Linked DNA regions of Homo sapiens: all the other regions are reported to be linked to region 3. Evidence: microRNA targets listed by miRTarBase, many of them from high-throughput screens and not tested one by one. Region 3 holds a microRNA gene; each other region holds the end of a gene's coding sequence.

Region 1 (4,059 bases), not on the chromosome of region 3:
AGGAAACCTTCTGGCGAATTCCAGCCAAGCTGAGTCCTACCCAGCTCCGGAGGGCAGCAGCTTCTTTGAGTCAACCAGAGGAGGAACAGAAGCTGCAGCCAGAGCTGCAGCCTAAAGTCCCTGGAGAGCAAGGCTCTGATGAGGAGCACTGTAAAGAGCACCGAGCACAAGCCCTGAGGGCCCTCTTGCTAGCCCACAAGAAGAAAGCGGGCCTGGCATCCCCAGAGGGTAATAGTGCGACAGCCATCTTCTGAGTATTAACGTGTCAGCCATGTTGGTCTAGAGGGCAGGAAAGGTGTTCTGAGAATATGAGGACCGAGTTCCTAATTTTGTGTCATTTATGGTCATTGCAGAGGAAGACGCTGTTGGTAAAGAGCCGCTGAAGGCAGCACCCAAGAAACGACAATTGCTGGACAGCGACGAGGAACAGGAAGAAGATGAGGGCAGGAACAGAGGTAGGGAATTTGATGGGACCTTCTTTTTCTTCTCTAATCCTGAAGACAAACTCTACCACGTCCTTACCCCTTAACATATTTAGATATTCTCTCTCTCTCTCACCCCCATCGTTCCCACAGCACCAGAGTTGGGAGCTCCAGGAATCCAAAAGAAGAAACGATACCAGATTGAGGATGATGAGGATGACTGAAGAGCTAAGAAGCCTAGGGGTAGAGATAGACACGTTTTTAGATGGTGCATTCAAGTCAGAGTTGGAAGGGTCATACAGGACCCAGAAGCTCCTCTTACTGGACAGAGCAGTAGAATCCCAGGCTCTTTCACGGATTTAGGCTGAGAAACTTCAGCAGCAGTATTGGACTTCTCTGCTGTCAGTCTTTGTTTCTCCCAGTTTTTATCGGTATGCCCCAGCAGCTCTCTGGAGATTTAGTTCTCTTCTTCTAGGAACCATTTCTTTTGGTTATTGGAGCTCCTTAGCAAATAAGAGGAGTGAGTGAAATAGAGAAAGCACCCCGGACCCCTTTTATTGGTCTGTTCCTTTGGCTTTCTCTTGGAGGTGGGTCGCAGCACCAGATGGGGAGCTTTATGACATGACAGGCGGGAGTTTTGTACCACTTTTAGAAGATACCAGATGCCTCTGTCCTCATTTTGTTTCCTATGATCATCCTCTAGATACCAGATAGAGGCCCATTCCTGCATTTGAGATAGGGTTGGAATATAGTACTCTAGATGATGAATGTGTTTGCTTTGTGTTTGGTATTAAACATGTAAGATTAGAAGTTCTCATCTCAGTCTGACTTGGCGATATGTCTAAGTTCCCCAGCCCTTCCCCTGCTGTGCTCTTGAAAGAAGAACTTAACAATTTTAGGGTAAAAAGAGACCAACAGACCGGCACAGTGGCTCAAACCTGTTGTCCTAGCACTTTGGGAGGCTGAGGCGGGCGGATCACCTGAGGTCAGGAGTTTGAGACCGGCCTGGACAATATGGCGAAATCCCATCTCCACTAAAAATACAAAAATTAGCCGGCCATGGTGGCATGCGCCTGTAATCCCAGCCACTCGGGTGGCTGAGGCAGGAGAATTGCCTGAACCCAGGAGGCAGAGGTTGCAGTGAGCTAAGGTCACGCCAGTGCATATGCCTGGGCGACAGAGCAAGACTCTGTCTCAAAAAAAAAGAAAAAAAAAAAAGACCAACAACCTTCCCTTTTCTTCCGCTTTCCCTACAGAAGACACAGAAAAGCATTTTTGCCTCTAGATCCTTTTGTCTAGGGTAAATTCTTAGGGTGACAAGAGTATGCGGCAGGAAGAAGGAGGAGCCATAAAGGAAGAGAAGCCAGCTTGTTGGCATGGGGCATAGAAAAGGACAAAATCTAGGCATGAAAAGGATGGATAAATACTGCAAATATTATGTTCTTACCCATTCTTGGAAACGTCAGCTTTCTTGCTTCCTGTGCTTCCAGCCGAGGTAGGGCAAAGGTGAGATTGAGAAAATAGCCATTCAGCTCAGGAAGGCTTCTAAGTAAAGGATGGATTTGGATTGCCCTGTTGCTTTGACTTTTCATTTTTATTTTTTCCTGAAAAGATGAGGATCTCCCATAGCCTCTAAAAGTGGGAGTGAAGCTATTTCCATGGTAATTGAAGTTTCCAAGGGCTAGACACTTTCTAGCTCTGGCCAGTCTTGGTGTCTCTTCATCCTGAGCTTTTCTTCACTTCGCAACCTGAGCACTGCTTCCTTCCAGCAGGGCTGCTCTGTTTTCCCTCCATGATCCGGGCTGTGCTGCTCCTTTGCTGTGTCCTGCTGTCCCCAGTATCTGCCTTTTTTTTTTTTTTTTTTTTTGGAGACGAAGTCTCGCTCTGTCACCCAGGCTGGAGTGTGGCAGCATGATCTCGGCTCGCTGCAGCCTCTGCCTGCCAGGTTCAAGTGATTCTCTTGCCTCGGCTTCCCAAGTAGCTGAAATTACAGGTACGAGCCACCACGCCCCGCAAATTTTTTGTATTTTTAGTAGAGACAGGATTTCACCACGTTGGCCAGGCTGGTCTTGAACTCCTGACCGAAGGTGATCCGCCTGCCTTGGCCTCCCAAAGTGCTGGGATTACAAGCGTGAGCCACCGTGCTCGGCCTAGCAGCTGCCTTTTTTTTTTTTTTTTTTCTTTTTTGTGATGGAATCTCACTCTGTCACCCGGGCTGGAGTGCAGTGGCGCAGTATCAGTTCACTGCAACCTCTGGCTCCTGGGTTCAAACAATTCTCCTGCCTCAGCCTCCTGAGTAGCTGGGATTACAAGCATGCACCACCACACCTGGCTAATTTTTGTATTTTTAGTAAAGATGGGGGTTCATCATGTTGACCAGGCTGGTCTGGAACTCCTGACCTCAAATGATCCTCCCACCTCAGCCTCCCAAAGTGCTTGAGCCACCGCATGAGCCGGTGGCGTGATTACAGGCATGAGCCACCGCATCCGGCCGTGGCTGCCTTTCTAAGAAATGTCCAGAACTGGACCCTGACTTTCCATCCCTCTTTGAAATTTCCAGCTCCAGTTTCTTCTAGCAGTGTTTATCAGTATAGAAAATTTACTATGTATTGGCCGGGCATGGTGGCTCACACCTGTAATCCCAGCACTTTGGGAGGCCGAGATGGGAGAATGACAAGGTCAGGAGATCGAGACACTGGCTAACACGGTGAAACCCCATCTCTACTAAAAATATAAAAAATAGCCAGGCATGGTGGCGGGCACCTGTAGCCCAGCTACTCAGGAGACTGAGGCAGGAGAATGGCGTGAACCCAAGAGGCAGAGGTTGCAGTGAGCTGAGATCGCACCACTGCACTCCAGCCTGGGTGACAGAGCGAGACTCCGTCTCAAAAAAAGAAAAAAAAAAAAGAAAATTTACTATTTATTAGGCACAAGAGGTATTTTTGTCCTTTTCCGTTTATTTACCCTTTGGAAATTTTTAAATGAGAAGAGGAGTAAAAAGCTATTTCTTACATATTTGAATCACAGCCGTCTGATTTCTCCTTATTCTGGGTCTCTTGGATTAAGCTGGGAATGTGGGAGCAAGAGGTAGATACTGCTTTTGCGGCATTTCTGACACCTAAACAAGCTCTGATTAGTCAGTACATATCAATTCAGGTATAGATTGGGAGAACCTATAGATCACGATGACAGTCACACATGTATGAAAGGGAGAAAGAGAAAAATTACAGTGCTACTCAGAAAATCTTGGCCAAGTTGATACAGAGCCCCAGAATGAAGATTACATGACTGAGGAGTCCCATGTCTGGCCGACTTGGCTGGGCTCTAGCACTGTCCACCTGTCATTGTCTCAGAGCAGCCTGTAGAGAGGGATGCTGCTGTGATCACTGCAGAACATTCTAAAGAGTGGAAGCTGTCGGCCAAATAGAATGTTCACTCTGTGTTCTCTTGAAGGGAGATCTGAGCAGAACACCACAGGGCAAATAGGCAAATGTTTGCCAAAATTGTGCCCTTACTGACCTTAGAGACAAGCAACTGTCCCCTCTCATGAGACAGAGAACTGGGACTGGAATAACCTACCTGGGAAAGCCCACCTCTCACTGACTACCCTCTGGTAATTTGGTGCTCTCAAATATTT
Region 2 (4,059 bases), not on the chromosome of region 3:
TTCCTATGGACCAGGGTTCCTCTTCAAAGAACCATTCACTGAAAACGTGGTGCCGGGAGGAGGAAGGGTCCCAGAATTTCTCTGAACTAAGAACCAAGAGCAGCAGCAGACGGGGCATCTCACACCCAAGCCTCATGTCCCAGCAGCCATTCATCCCAAGCCTATAGGAATCGAGTTCACCCTGAATTCTGCCTTGGAACTGGCCCCTTGCTGCATCTGTCCAGGCCATGCTATGAATTCAGACTCAAACTGATGGTGAATGGAGAAAAATGAGGAGTCGAGCCTAATGGGGCCCTTCCCAGGTATGCAAAAGGCACACCTACACCTTTGAACCAATTGGAAAAGAATGTGGACAAAAGATCACATCCAAGCCGGGTGCGGTGGTGTGCACCTGCCGTTCCAGGGACTCAGGATACAGAAGTGGGTGGATCACTTGAGCCCAGGAGTTCAAGGCTGTAGTCTGTAGTCTGCTATGTGTGTGTCTGTGAATGACCACTGCACTCCAGCCTGGGCAACGCAGTGAGAACTTATCTCAAAAAAAAAAAAAAAAAAAATCACATCCTTTGCTGGAAACATCGCCTTTAAGGGTCCCTGTTGTGAAACACAAGTGCCCATGTAGCTTCCCCACAGATCTTATGATTCCTTTTACTGTTCGACTTGAAACCCACAAGAGTGTGACGTGGGCATGAGGATAGGCATGGGTTTACTGGTTTACTAGATGGGGGCCGCCAGGACCTCCCTGAGAAGCTGAAGCCCCCTCCCACAGTAACCGTCCTCTCCCCTCTGATGACACAGAATGGGCCAGGGCTGCTCATTTTGGCTGAAAATCACAGCTCTGTTCTTTTCTTTTTCTTTTTTCTTTCTTTTTTTTTTTTGAGACAGAGTCTCACTCTGTTGCTCAGGCTGGAGTGCAGTGGCATGATCTCAGCTCACTGCAACTTCCACCTCCTGGGTTCATGCAATTCTCCTGCCTCAGCCTCCCGAATAGCTGGGATTACAGGCATACATACCATGCATGGCTAATTTTTGTATTTTTAGTAGACATGGGGTTTCACCATGTTGGCCAGGCTGGTCTCGAACTTCTGACCCCAAGTGATCCACCTGCCTCAGCCTCCCAAAGTGCTGGGATTACAGGCGTGAGCCACCGCACCTGGCCAAGCTCTGTTCTTTTCAAATCCCAATCCCTGGGAAGGCACAGTGCCCTCTCCAGGTCCACCTGTGAGCAGGGCAAGGCTGGGCCACTCCACCAGCTCCAGGGGGCCGCGGTCCTGTACATGCCATGCAGGCAGCACAGAACGTTCCAGCCCCAGGCTTTTTGTCAGTGTGGCTTTTGAATGTCACTGCATCCCGCAAGAGACACCGTAATGCTGTTTTAATTATTTCTTTCCCCTGCTGGGAAATCACCTCCATCAAAATGGCTATTCTGAACCCATCCCCAGCCTAGCAACAGCCGGAACTGAGAGGGAATATTAAACTGTTTTCTAAAACTTCGGTGTTGGCATTCGATTTCATATCAAAACTTACTCCAAAGCTCTGATCTGCGGCAGGAAGACAAAAAGCTAACAAGATCAGAAAGGCCAGGCTCACTACGGAGAATGCTGAGAGATGCCAAGGAAGGGGGCTGCTTTGCAGCAGGTGCACCCCAGGGGGTCAGCGGGTCATCACCCTGGGAAGGAGCTGGGGGAGGGGGGGGCGCCACAGCGAGGGACTGACTGCGACCAGAGGCCAGCCCAGAAAGCATGGCCGATGGGATCCCCAGTTCTCTGCAGAGCTGGGGTGAGCGAGGGGGTGAACAACCCATAACTGAGTGAGCAGCGACTCCTTTTATAGGATACTCTAAGGGAGATGCTCTCAGGGCTACAGGGAGAGTAACATGAACACTTCATATCCTCCCGGTACAAGGCAAATTATGCCCCCCACAAATCCACATGCTGAAGTCCTAACCCCAGCACCTCTGATGTGATGGTATTTGGAGACAGGGTCTTTATGGAGGTAATCAAGATTAAATGAGGTCATATAAGTGGGCCCTAATCCAATAGGACCGCAGCCCTTCTAAAAAGAGGGGTGCAGGCTGGGCATGTCCGCTCATGCCTATAATCCCAGCACTTTGGGAGGCTGAGGTGGGTGGGTCGCTCAAGCCCAGGGGTTTGAGAACAGCCTGGGCAACATGGTGAAACCCCATCTCTACAAAAAATACAAAAATTAGATGGGCCTAGTGGTGTGCACTTGTGGTCCCCGCTACTTGGGAGGCTGAGGTGGGAGGATCAATTGAGCCTGGGAGATCAAGGCTGCAGTGAGCTGAGATGGCACCACTTTACTCCTGGGTGACACAGTGAGAACTTGTCTCAAAAAAAAAAAAAAAAATAGGCTGGGCACAGTGGCTCACGCCTGTAATCCCAACACTTTGGGAGGCTGAGGCAGGCAGATCATGAGGTCAGGAGATCAAGACCATCCTGGCCAACATGGTGAAACCCCGTCTCTACTAAAAATACAAAAATTAGCCAGGTGTGGTGGCACCTGCCTGTAATGCCAGCTACTTGGGAGGCTGAGGCAGGAGAATCGCTTGAACCTGGGAGGCAGAGGTTGCAGTGAGCTGAGATCACACCACTGCACTCCAGCCTGGTGACAGAGCGAGACTCTGTCTCAAAAAATAAAAACAAAAATAAAAAATAAAATAAAAGAGGCGGTGAGGACACAGACACACAGAGGGGAGACCATGTGAAGACACGGGGAGAAGCCGGCATCTACAAGCCAAGGCGAAAGGCCTGAGGATGTAATTCTCTGATGTCTGAGCCACTCCCCTGTGGCACTTTACTACACAGTGCCAGTGAACCAATGCACCCCCCTCATTTTAAAGTTTCCAAAGATGCATTCATTCCCAAAAAGGGCCTCTGAAGGGGAAAGCTGTGACCCAAGCTGTCTCAAGCAGCACAATTAGAGCCATCTCCAGACCCAGCCCCTCAACCACAGCAAGAAATTAAGAAACGTCCCCAGCAGACAGCTCCTTTCAAGGACTGTGGGAGCTGGGCCATCCTGAGTCTTGGATGTTTGTGCAAAACCTACATTAAAACGAGTGACCAAGAAGTGATAGGAATGTGGGTGGAGGACACCCATGTCACATCTAAGCTTCTGGGACTTTAAAGTTTTTCAAACTGCAAAACCCTTTTATTTTTAATAAAAGGCCTCACTTCCAAGGAGAGCCCAGCCCAGGAGATCCCCGGTGAATCGTCAAGCCTGGGTCCTCGGGGAGCCGGCGTTCCTGCTGAGCTGATGTTGTACTTCTGAAGGCCTGTGATCGCTAACTGCACCATGAGGCAGAATGCAGGGTGCTCTCAACCAGCTGGGGGTTGGGGTTCAGGCTTTTTTTCATCTTTCGGCCAAGGCAGACAACAACGGACTCATCATCCCACGCGACTGAGTGACGCGAGGCTTCAAACGCAAGCACGAGTGTTTAGAATCCTGCATTTTCAAAGGCTCTTGCCCACTGGGAACTACATGGAGAGGAGATTAAGAACAACAACCAAAAGAGGCAGGGGGTGGGGCAGGCGTGAGGTAGGGGTGGGGTGGGGATGACAGTCAACACAGCTTGGACCAGAAGCCCATGGCGCCTGGCTCCCTGGAAAGGCACAGGGCACAGACGGATGCCGCCTTTCTTGCTGGGACACTCCTGCCACCATCCACAGCTCCCCCGTCACTCCACGTTCTTGTACTTGGTGAACAGGTTGTAAAGAACCCTCAGGGTGGATTTGAGGTCCAAGTTAACCACGTCTGCAGAAGGAAACAGAGAAACTTCAGAGGCGTGCCATCCTCCTGTCATTGCGGTAGGTACTCTCAGAAGCCACGTCTCCAGCATGACACCAGCTGCCGCATCCACACACAGCGCTTCCCCTTAAAGACTGGCCACCACCATGTCCAGGACGCTCTGGGCAGTGCCTCCCCAGACACACAGGTTTTGTGAGAGCTCCTGGCGCGGGCTGACACCCTGCGGGGACAGGCACCTGGGGTGACAAGAACAGAGACACTCCCACAGCCCCTCCTGGATCTGCATCAGGACATGTC
Region 3 (4,065 bases):
CTACCTGGTTCTCAATTTGACACCCTGGAAAAAAAAGCATTGCTTACTATTTTAGAGTATATCAAACTGAACACTCTGAGAAACCTACACAAATACTGTATCAGTAGAAATACCAGGTTTAACAAGCACAAAGCCAAGAAAACCAACGATGCCAGATACTGAATTTCTATAGCACTGACCTTTGAACACCCTAGCAGGTGTAAACTGCTGAGTGCAGATACCATGCAGTGCAATTATGACTGAACTGTACAACTCGTATTCCCAAATTTGCAATATTGCTGAGAAATGCTTTCACAAACCTCTCAAATTCCTTTAACAAGTACAATAATTTGAGCTTTTTTCCTAATTGTCACTGTAATAAGGAAGCTACATTAACTACATTTTAAGCTACAACTCTAGTCTTTGCCTAATCTTTGCCCAGTCTCTCTATAAAACTTAAAGATGGAATATATACATGTAACTTAACAGATCAGACAACAAACGTCAAGCTCATTGTTGCTCAAACTGCCAGTTACACAAAATTCTTTTTATGTAATTCATATCCCTATTGATTCAACATATCCACACAGGTTTACGTGACTTTAGGATGAAATATGTGTAACTGCCAGTTGAATAATGATGCAAAGAACACAGGTAGTTTCGTTTGGTAGGTATAGACATGCAGTCTCTTCATTTTCCTTCTCTATACAAATATATACATTGTAATATTTTTGCCAGTATCTTACTAATTCTGTGTTATACCTGAAATACTGGGATGGTGTAATTTCTATTTTTCATCTTTTGAGTCCTTGATTATTATAAGTTAAATATTTTACTTACCTCTCAACATGAATGAGTTCAAATCACATTCATTCCTATAGAAAGTACCAATTAAAGATTTAGAAAGGATACATTTCCAGTTATTAAAACTAAAACCCAAGTATAAATTTAAGATCCAGTTTATTATACAGCCATATCCAGCTCTGTCAGAATTAAGTTTTAGTTCATGCCCGTTATCATTCAGCAGTTGAACAGTTAAATTCATCATCTGAACTGTAATCATTATTTCCCAAAAGATTATACTGTCACCAATTAAAACTTACCTAAGCGATCACTCAAGAATGGTACAGATGTGTGGAGTATGCCAATACCTAAGGTAAAAAAGTAGATTATCTGGTTTTTCATAACGTTTAGCAACCGTCTTTTTCAAACTTTTAGCAACTGTCTTGTAATTCCTTCCCACAGATCTAACAATAGTCCTGTGAGTAAAGTAAAACCACAGAGTTACTCTATGAGGCGTTTCCAACGATGTGCAGGCTACAGGAAAAGCCCCATCGGGATAGACCTCAACCACTATTTACAAGGTTTTGATTTTTTTTTAAAGACACAGGATCTGCCATGTCTTTTAAAAATCGTGTGATTCTTGCTGAATCACTTGAGCCCAGGGGTTCGAGGCTACAGTGAGATGTGGCAGGATCACATCTCACTGTAGCCTCAAACCGCTGGGCTCAAGTGTTTCTCCTGCCTTAGCCTCCAGAGTAGCTGGGGACCACAGGCACCACTGTGTCCAGCTAGTATTTATACACATAAATAACAAAGTCTAACACTCCATAGGAAAGAAATTATGAGCAGAAACTGCAATATGCTCTTACAATATTGCCAACTGCAGAAACTTCCTACTACGTTAATCACAAAAACAATAATTTCACAATCACGTTGTGCTTAGGAGCCAGAGGAATGATAAATAAAAAGTAACATCAAGTAGCTCCTTTACATGAACCAAAGGAAAAAGATTTAAACTTAAGATTTAAGTTTAAAGTCTAACTGTTGTTATGAACTTCAGTATTGCAACAGAGGATGTTGTTTTCCCAATTCGAAGATTTCAGCAAATTTTAATTCTTGGCTCAAAATTAATTGTCATCCATTATAAAATACAGGAATATAATGTGCCTGTAAGTTACGACTTTGGCATTATATAACTTTTAATCAAACTCTACATCATTCAAATTTATGAATTCTTATGACCTGTGTAATCATCTTTTATTATACTATATTTTGCATTAAACCATAAAATCCTCTGCCTCATTTTAGATTGTGCATTAATTCAAAATAATGCTGTAGGCTTCAAGTAGGAAATCCAAAGTTCTGATTATTGCTACAAACTAACAAATTCAGGACCCTCTAATGCTTGCAACTAAAATGAATCTGACACATCACTATAAAATGTGTGAATCTAGGATTCTTCTTTTCAGAAATCAGTATAAATGGGAATTAAAAGCATGGTAGAAATGTCCCTGAATAAAATGAAACTTGCTCTGACAACATACTGTTTCCTACACATAAACAAATATGATGTGAAAACTCAAATTGAGACATACCTTTAACTCCAGACACCATGTTCTCAAGATAAAAGCCTTTAAAACAAAAAGCCATTGTGTATATCATCAACATGAAATTGGAATGCAAAATTAATACTGCTGAGGATTTCCCTCATATCCCATGCTGTTTATCTATTCTACAGGCCTGGAATCAACCTTTTTTTCTTAAGAGACAGGGTCTGTCTTTGTTACTCAGGCTGGAGTACAGTGGTGCCATCAAAGCTCAGTGCAGCCTCCAACTCTGCCTCAGCCTCCCCCCTTTCTGAGTAACTCCAACTACAGGCACATGCCCCAGTACCCAGCTAATTTTTAAATTTTTGTGGAGATGTGTTTCTTACTTTCTTGCCTAGGCTGGTCTTGAACTCCTGGTTTCAAGCAATACTCCCACCTTGGTGTGGGGATTGCAGGCTTGACCCATTGCACCTGGCCTGGAACCAACCTTTATGGCTATCAATACTCCCATCAATCAACTGTCTCAGGTATCATAATATCCCTTCTTATATGTATCAAAACTCATACTGAACAATGAGTTCTGGGTTGCAAAAGAGGATTTATTTTTTGCACCTATCTGTAAGTCTTTGTCCACGTTAAACAAAAACATACATAAGTGCAGTCCCAAAATGCACTACATAGCAGAGTAGTCAGCTCTATCGTGGTGATCAAAATAATGAACATCGGGGTAATGACTGGTTCTCCCCAGGTATACATGTTGAATAAATGTGTATGCCTTTTCTTGAACTAATAAAAAGTGAAAATGGTAGTTAAAAGTAGTATTAGGCCAGGTGCCATGGCTCACACCTATAATCCCAGCATTTTGGGAGGCCAAGGCAGGCGGATCGCCTGAGGTCAGGAGTTCGAGACCATGGTGAAAGCCTGTCTCTACTAAAAAAACAAAAACTAGCTGGGTGTGCTGGCTAACGCCTGTAATCCCAGCTACTAAGGAGGCTGAGGCAGAATCGCTTGAACCCGGGAGATGGAGGTTGCAGTAAGCCAAGACTGCGGCCATTGCACTACAGCCTGGGTGACAGATCGAGACTCTGTCTAAAAAAAATAGTATTAAAGATACTCTAAATTTGGAAAGGGAAATGAGGTTATTACAATACTAAGCATCTGACAGGTCACTTGTCATGGCTGAACAAAGCTGGGATAAAATTACAGCATTTCAAATCCCCTCTTCAAGATGGTTGGGTGTCAAGTTACTTTAAGATTTTCTTTTCAAAATTAAAATCACTACATTTCATTGTTTCAATACTCACAGGACACCTGTAAGCTCTTATTCAGAAATCAAATGACAATTTCTCAAATTTTTCTATGTATTTTCTCTGGTGTTTTAATGGTTTTTTTTCTAATTATTACTACTTCACAAGTTTCTTTCACAAACTTCTTCACAGGGTTAAAAATTTTTTTTCTTGTTATAAAGTTCTGGGTTTCAGAATTTCTTCACCACCAGACTGGTACATATATCCACATTTATCTTTATTCATTTCTATGAAGTCGTTTTTTCTATATGCTTCACCTTTGACATTCATGATCCTGTCACATTTTCAGGCCTCTCTGTCCAGTATTTTTGGCTTTTGTAGCTCTCTTTTTAGACAAAGCAGCTTCTTCAGTAATATCCTCTTCTTCTAAGTATACACTCAGTCTTACAGGGAATTCAGAACTTACTATGAAACTATCCCCCTGCATAAAACAAACAAAAAATCATGGA
Region 4 (4,059 bases), not on the chromosome of region 3:
TCTGGCTTCAGCTTCCCTACTAAATAGGGATTGAAATTCTCACCCTGCTCACCTCTCTGCAGACATTGATGAGTGTGGCACAGAGGGAGCCAACTGTGGAGCTGACCAATTCTGCGTGAACACTGAGGGCTCCTATGAGTGCCGAGGTCAGTGTCTACTTCTGCAGAGGAGGGGACGTGAGGAGTGGAGGAAGAGCTGCTCCACACCTGTCCCTCCAAACCTTCCCCTTCTCAGGCTTCAGAGCACCCCCAGGCCTCCGCTTCTGGAGCGTGGCTCCCCTGGGCCTAGGTGCACATCTCACCCTCATCTTTCTCTCCTCTCTCCAGACTGTGCCAAGGCCTGCCTAGGCTGCATGGGGGCAGGGCCAGGTCGCTGTAAGAAGTGTAGCCCTGGCTATCAGCAGGTGGGCTCCAAGTGTCTCGGTGAGTCTCCTGCTGATGGGACACAGGCACCTGGGAGTGCCTCACCCAGCATGAATGGTGAAGAGGCTGGAATATGGGCAGGTGGGGGAAGGAAGGGTGGAATGTTGCCTGGGCAAGGGCAGAGGGGAGTGTTGAGAGATGGACAAGATGGAGTCAGGGTGCTGGGTGGGGGGCCCTAGCAGGACTCTGACCCCTCCCTCCCCTCAAGATGTGGATGAGTGTGAGACAGAGGTGTGTCCGGGAGAGAACAAGCAGTGTGAAAACACCGAGGGCGGTTATCGCTGCATCTGTGCCGAGGGCTACAAGCAGATGGAAGGCATCTGTGTGAAGGAGCAGATCCCAGGTGAGCCCTGGGGCGGGAGAGGGGAGGTCCTCATTCAAAGAGAAGGCAGGCAAGCCCCTTCCCCAGGTAGCAGTGGCAGCTCCAGGCCCTGCCCCATCCCTACTGCCACCCAGCCCCCTGGAGGCTGCACTGAGACCGGGCTCTACATCTGATCTCCAGGTTGGCTCTCAGCAGCCTTATACCTTCCAGGGTACAAAGGGAATCAGACCTGGCATCAAATCAGTCTGCCTCCTTAACCTGTTTCCTCATCTATCCAATGGGACCAGTGTTTGCCCTGGCCTGCTGAGAGCTGTCCTAGGCCGGGGGTGTGGTGAGATGCAGGGTAATCACAACGATGATGGCAGGGACCATTTCCCCAGCAATTACTGTGTCAGATGCTGTTCTAGGTGCATTCCCCATCTTAACTGATTTAACCCCTGAAACAACCCGACGCTGGAAGTTGGGTTCTCATCCCCACTCTACATATGTAAAAATGAAGATGCAGAGAGATGAAGCTACTTTCCCAGGGCTATATGGCAAGCAAGTCGCAAAGCTGGGATCCCAATCCAGACAGTCTGACCGTGGAACGAGACTCATACACGTAATAAATGCTCTGCCCCCAACTTGTCCACCACATGGCCTTGGCAAGTCCAACCCCTTTACCTCTCTGAGCCTCACTTTCCCATTTAGTGAGACAGGGATGGTAACTGCCCCTTGCAGGGTGGTTTTGAGCAGTAAATGTAGTGTGCCTGGCTTGCTGGGCAGGCCTGGTGGCCATGATGATCAGGTGTGTGGGAGTTCTGGGGAGACTCCAAGAACTACCAGGAACAGGGATACGAGTGCCAGGCTGCATCTCTTGCTCCTCTGCAGAGTCAGCAGGCTTCTTCTCAGAGATGACAGAAGACGAGTTGGTGGTGCTGCAGCAGATGTTCTTTGGCATCATCATCTGTGCACTGGCCACGCTGGCTGCTAAGGGCGACTTGGTGTTCACCGCCATCTTCATTGGGGCTGTGGCGGCCATGACTGGCTACTGGTTGTCAGAGCGCAGTGACCGTGTGCTGGAGGGCTTCATCAAGGGCAGATAATCGCGGCCACCACCTGTAGGACCTCCTCCCACCCACGCTGCCCCCAGAGCTTGGGCTGCCCTCCTGCTGGACACTCAGGACAGCTTGGTTTATTTTTGAGAGTGGGGTAAGCACCCCTACCTGCCTTACAGAGCAGCCCAGGTACCCAGGCCCGGGCAGACAAGGCCCCTGGGGTAAAAAGTAGCCCTGAAGGTGGATACCATGAGCTCTTCACCTGGCGGGGACTGGCAGGCTTCACAATGTGTGAATTTCAAAAGTTTTTCCTTAATGGTGGCTGCTAGAGCTTTGGCCCCTGCTTAGGATTAGGTGGTCCTCACAGGGGTGGGGCCATCACAGCTCCCTCCTGCCAGCTGCATGCTGCCAGTTCCTGTTCTGTGTTCACCACATCCCCACACCCCATTGCCACTTATTTATTCATCTCAGGAAATAAAGAAAGGTCTTGGAAAGTTAAAAGGCATCAGTCTTACTACCTGTCCCACCACCCCCACCTTAGGGAAATGTCCTAGAATCCTGGGAAATTGAGGGCTTCTTTGATGGTGAGTGGAGAAAAGATAGAGGAGAAGGTTGCCCCTGAAGTGCTGTTAGGAGAAGGAGGATAGAGGAATCAGCCTTAGGAGGGTTCCATGCCAGCTGTCATTTGGCAAAGGACCCTGGACAGATGACTTTTGCCTCTGAACTTCACTCTTCTCTTTCCTCAAATGGGCTTCATAATGCTTTCCACTCAGGCTTAACATGAGAATTAAATGAGGTGACAAATGTGAAGACCTGGACAGTACACAACAGATATTCAATAAAAGTGTGGTCGCCATTATGACCAGAGCCTCCAAGCCTCAAGCAACCTTTCCTCGGAGTCCTGCTCTCCGTCCAATACACAGGACTTAGAATGACTGGGAGGCAGGGCCTCCAGTCTCTCCTTCCTCCTATGAGTACAGGATCCTGGCATGGCCAGAGGGAAGCATGAGCCAAGTCCTAAGGGTTTATTTCTTTGGCACAAAGAGGACAATCTAGACAAGCGAGGCTCATCACTCCACGTTGGGGAGTCTGGGGCACCTGCTCCCTGTTCTTCATGCCCGAATCCATGCACACCCACCCTGTATTCCGCATAAGACACGGCCTCTGTGCAAAATGCCGGCTGAAAAAAAAATAGAAATATTAAAAGCAAAAAACGGCATGGGGGTGGGGTGAGTTCAAACCTGGCTGTCCCCCGGGGGTTGCCGTCAGGTAGAGAGGCCTGGGGATGCCTTTTTTTTTTTTTTTTTTTTTTTTTTTTTTGAGACGGAGTCTCACTCTTGTCACCCAGGCTGGAGTGCAATGGCGTGGTCTCGGCTCACTGCAACCTCTGCCTCCCTGTTCAAGCAATTCTCCCGCCTCAGCCTCCCGAGTAGCTGGGACTACAGGCGTGTGCCACCTGGCTAATTTTTTTGTATTTTTAGTAGAGACGAGGGTTTCGCTATGTTCGAGACCAGGAGGCTGATCTCGAACTCCTGACCTCGTGTTCCACCCACCTCGGCCTCCCAAAGTGCTGGGATTCCTGGCGTGAGCCACCGCGCCTGGCCAGGATGCCCATTTTTTAAAGGCTCAACTGTCCCAGTAGGCCATGCCATGTGGGCATCGGGCAGGGTCCTGGCCCTGCGTCAGGACCGCTCTTCAAAGCTCGATGGTATCACTGGAGGCGCTGCGGGATTCCCCAGGCTTGCCGCGCGGCTGGACCTCTCCCTGGCCGTCCCCCTGCCGAGCGGCGGTAGAATCAGGGGCTGGGGTCGGGGCAGGCAGTAGCTGTACCGTGCTGGGCAACTCATCTAGGGGCAGACTGTCCACTGATGACAGCCCGTGGCGCCAGGGGTTCCAACTGATCTTGAGTGAACCCCTGGAGAAGCTGTCGAGGGAGCTGCCAGAAGCCGCAGCGGCTGCCCCGTCGGGTGCTTCCACTACGTGCTGTGGGACCGGCCCGCGCACGCGCACGTCGCTGAGCGACCTGCAGCGGCCGCGGAGGAGCGAGGAGCCAGCGTCGTCGAGCTCGGCTTTGGGATGGCTGCCCCGGCGCGGCCGCAGAGCGCCTCCAGGCGGCGGGGAGGCCAGGCCGCGGAGGCCGCAGCGCTGGAACACACTGTCTCGCACTAGGTGCTCGCGGAAGAGCGCGGCGTCGATGCTGCGGCTCAGGTTGATGGGCGATGGCGGCCGCAGATCCAGCTCGCTCAGCGATGGCGCCGGTCCCACACCGTTGCGGGAC

The links. Region 3 holds the annotated microRNA hsa-miR-1304-3p (UCUCACUGUAGCCUCGAACCCC, at 1,424-1,445, opposite strand). A microRNA usually pairs through its seed, bases 2 to 8, with sites in the 3' UTR of a target mRNA and lowers its output. Matches are read on the target gene's strand: a 7mer-m8 pairs with bases 2 to 8, a 7mer-A1 pairs with bases 2 to 7 and ends in A, and an 8mer does both.
Region 1: miRTarBase lists TIMELESS as a target of hsa-miR-1304-3p. Seed matches in the 3' UTR shown: 7mer-m8 at 1,561-1,567.
Region 2: miRTarBase lists PARVB as a target of hsa-miR-1304-3p. Seed matches in the 3' UTR shown: 7mer-m8 at 929-935 and 7mer-A1 at 885-891.
Region 4: the mRNA of PRRT3 is a reported target of hsa-miR-1304-3p. Seed matches in the 3' UTR shown: 7mer-m8 at 3,156-3,162 and 7mer-A1 at 3,111-3,117.

What each region holds. Positions count from the first base shown.
Region 1 is chr12:56,414,303-56,418,361 of GRCh38, reverse strand. TIMELESS (timeless circadian regulator) reads left to right here. Exons shown (of 29, transcript NM_003920.5): 27 at 3-228; 28 at 354-455; 29 at 576-1,999. The coding sequence ends at 646. Among named protein-coding and RNA genes, the nearest start is that of TIMELESS, 33 kb to the left of the region's middle.
Region 2 is chr22:44,168,311-44,172,369 of GRCh38, reverse strand. PARVB (parvin beta) reads right to left here. Exons shown (of 13, transcript NM_013327.5): 13 at 1-3,768. The coding sequence ends at 3,692. Among named protein-coding and RNA genes, the nearest start is that of PARVG, 11 kb to the left of the region's middle. RefSeq lists an enhancer at 1,752-2,273.
Region 3 is chr11:93,732,268-93,736,332 of GRCh38, forward strand. It overlaps MIR1304 (microRNA 1304), which reads right to left and starts at 1,497; the gene lies at 1,407-1,497. TAF1D (TATA-box binding protein associated factor, RNA polymerase I subunit D) reads right to left here. Exons shown (of 6, transcript NM_024116.4): 6 at 3,300-4,037. The coding sequence ends at 3,894. SNORA8 (small nucleolar RNA, H/ACA box 8) reads right to left here and starts at 232; the gene lies at 94-232. SNORD5 (small nucleolar RNA, C/D box 5) reads right to left here and starts at 1,033; the gene lies at 961-1,033. It also overlaps SNORA18 and SNORA40.
Region 4 is chr3:9,942,751-9,946,809 of GRCh38, forward strand. PRRT3 (proline rich transmembrane protein 3) reads right to left here. Exons shown (of 4, transcript NM_207351.5): 4 at 2,792-4,059. The coding sequence ends at 3,477. It overlaps CRELD1 (CRELD disulfide isomerase 1), which reads left to right. Exons shown (of 11, transcript NM_001077415.3): 8 at 63-146; 9 at 327-422; 10 at 631-765; 11 at 1,615-2,656. The coding sequence ends at 1,829. Among named protein-coding and RNA genes, the nearest start is that of PRRT3-AS1, 2.6 kb to the right of the region's middle. RefSeq lists an enhancer at 2,922-3,584.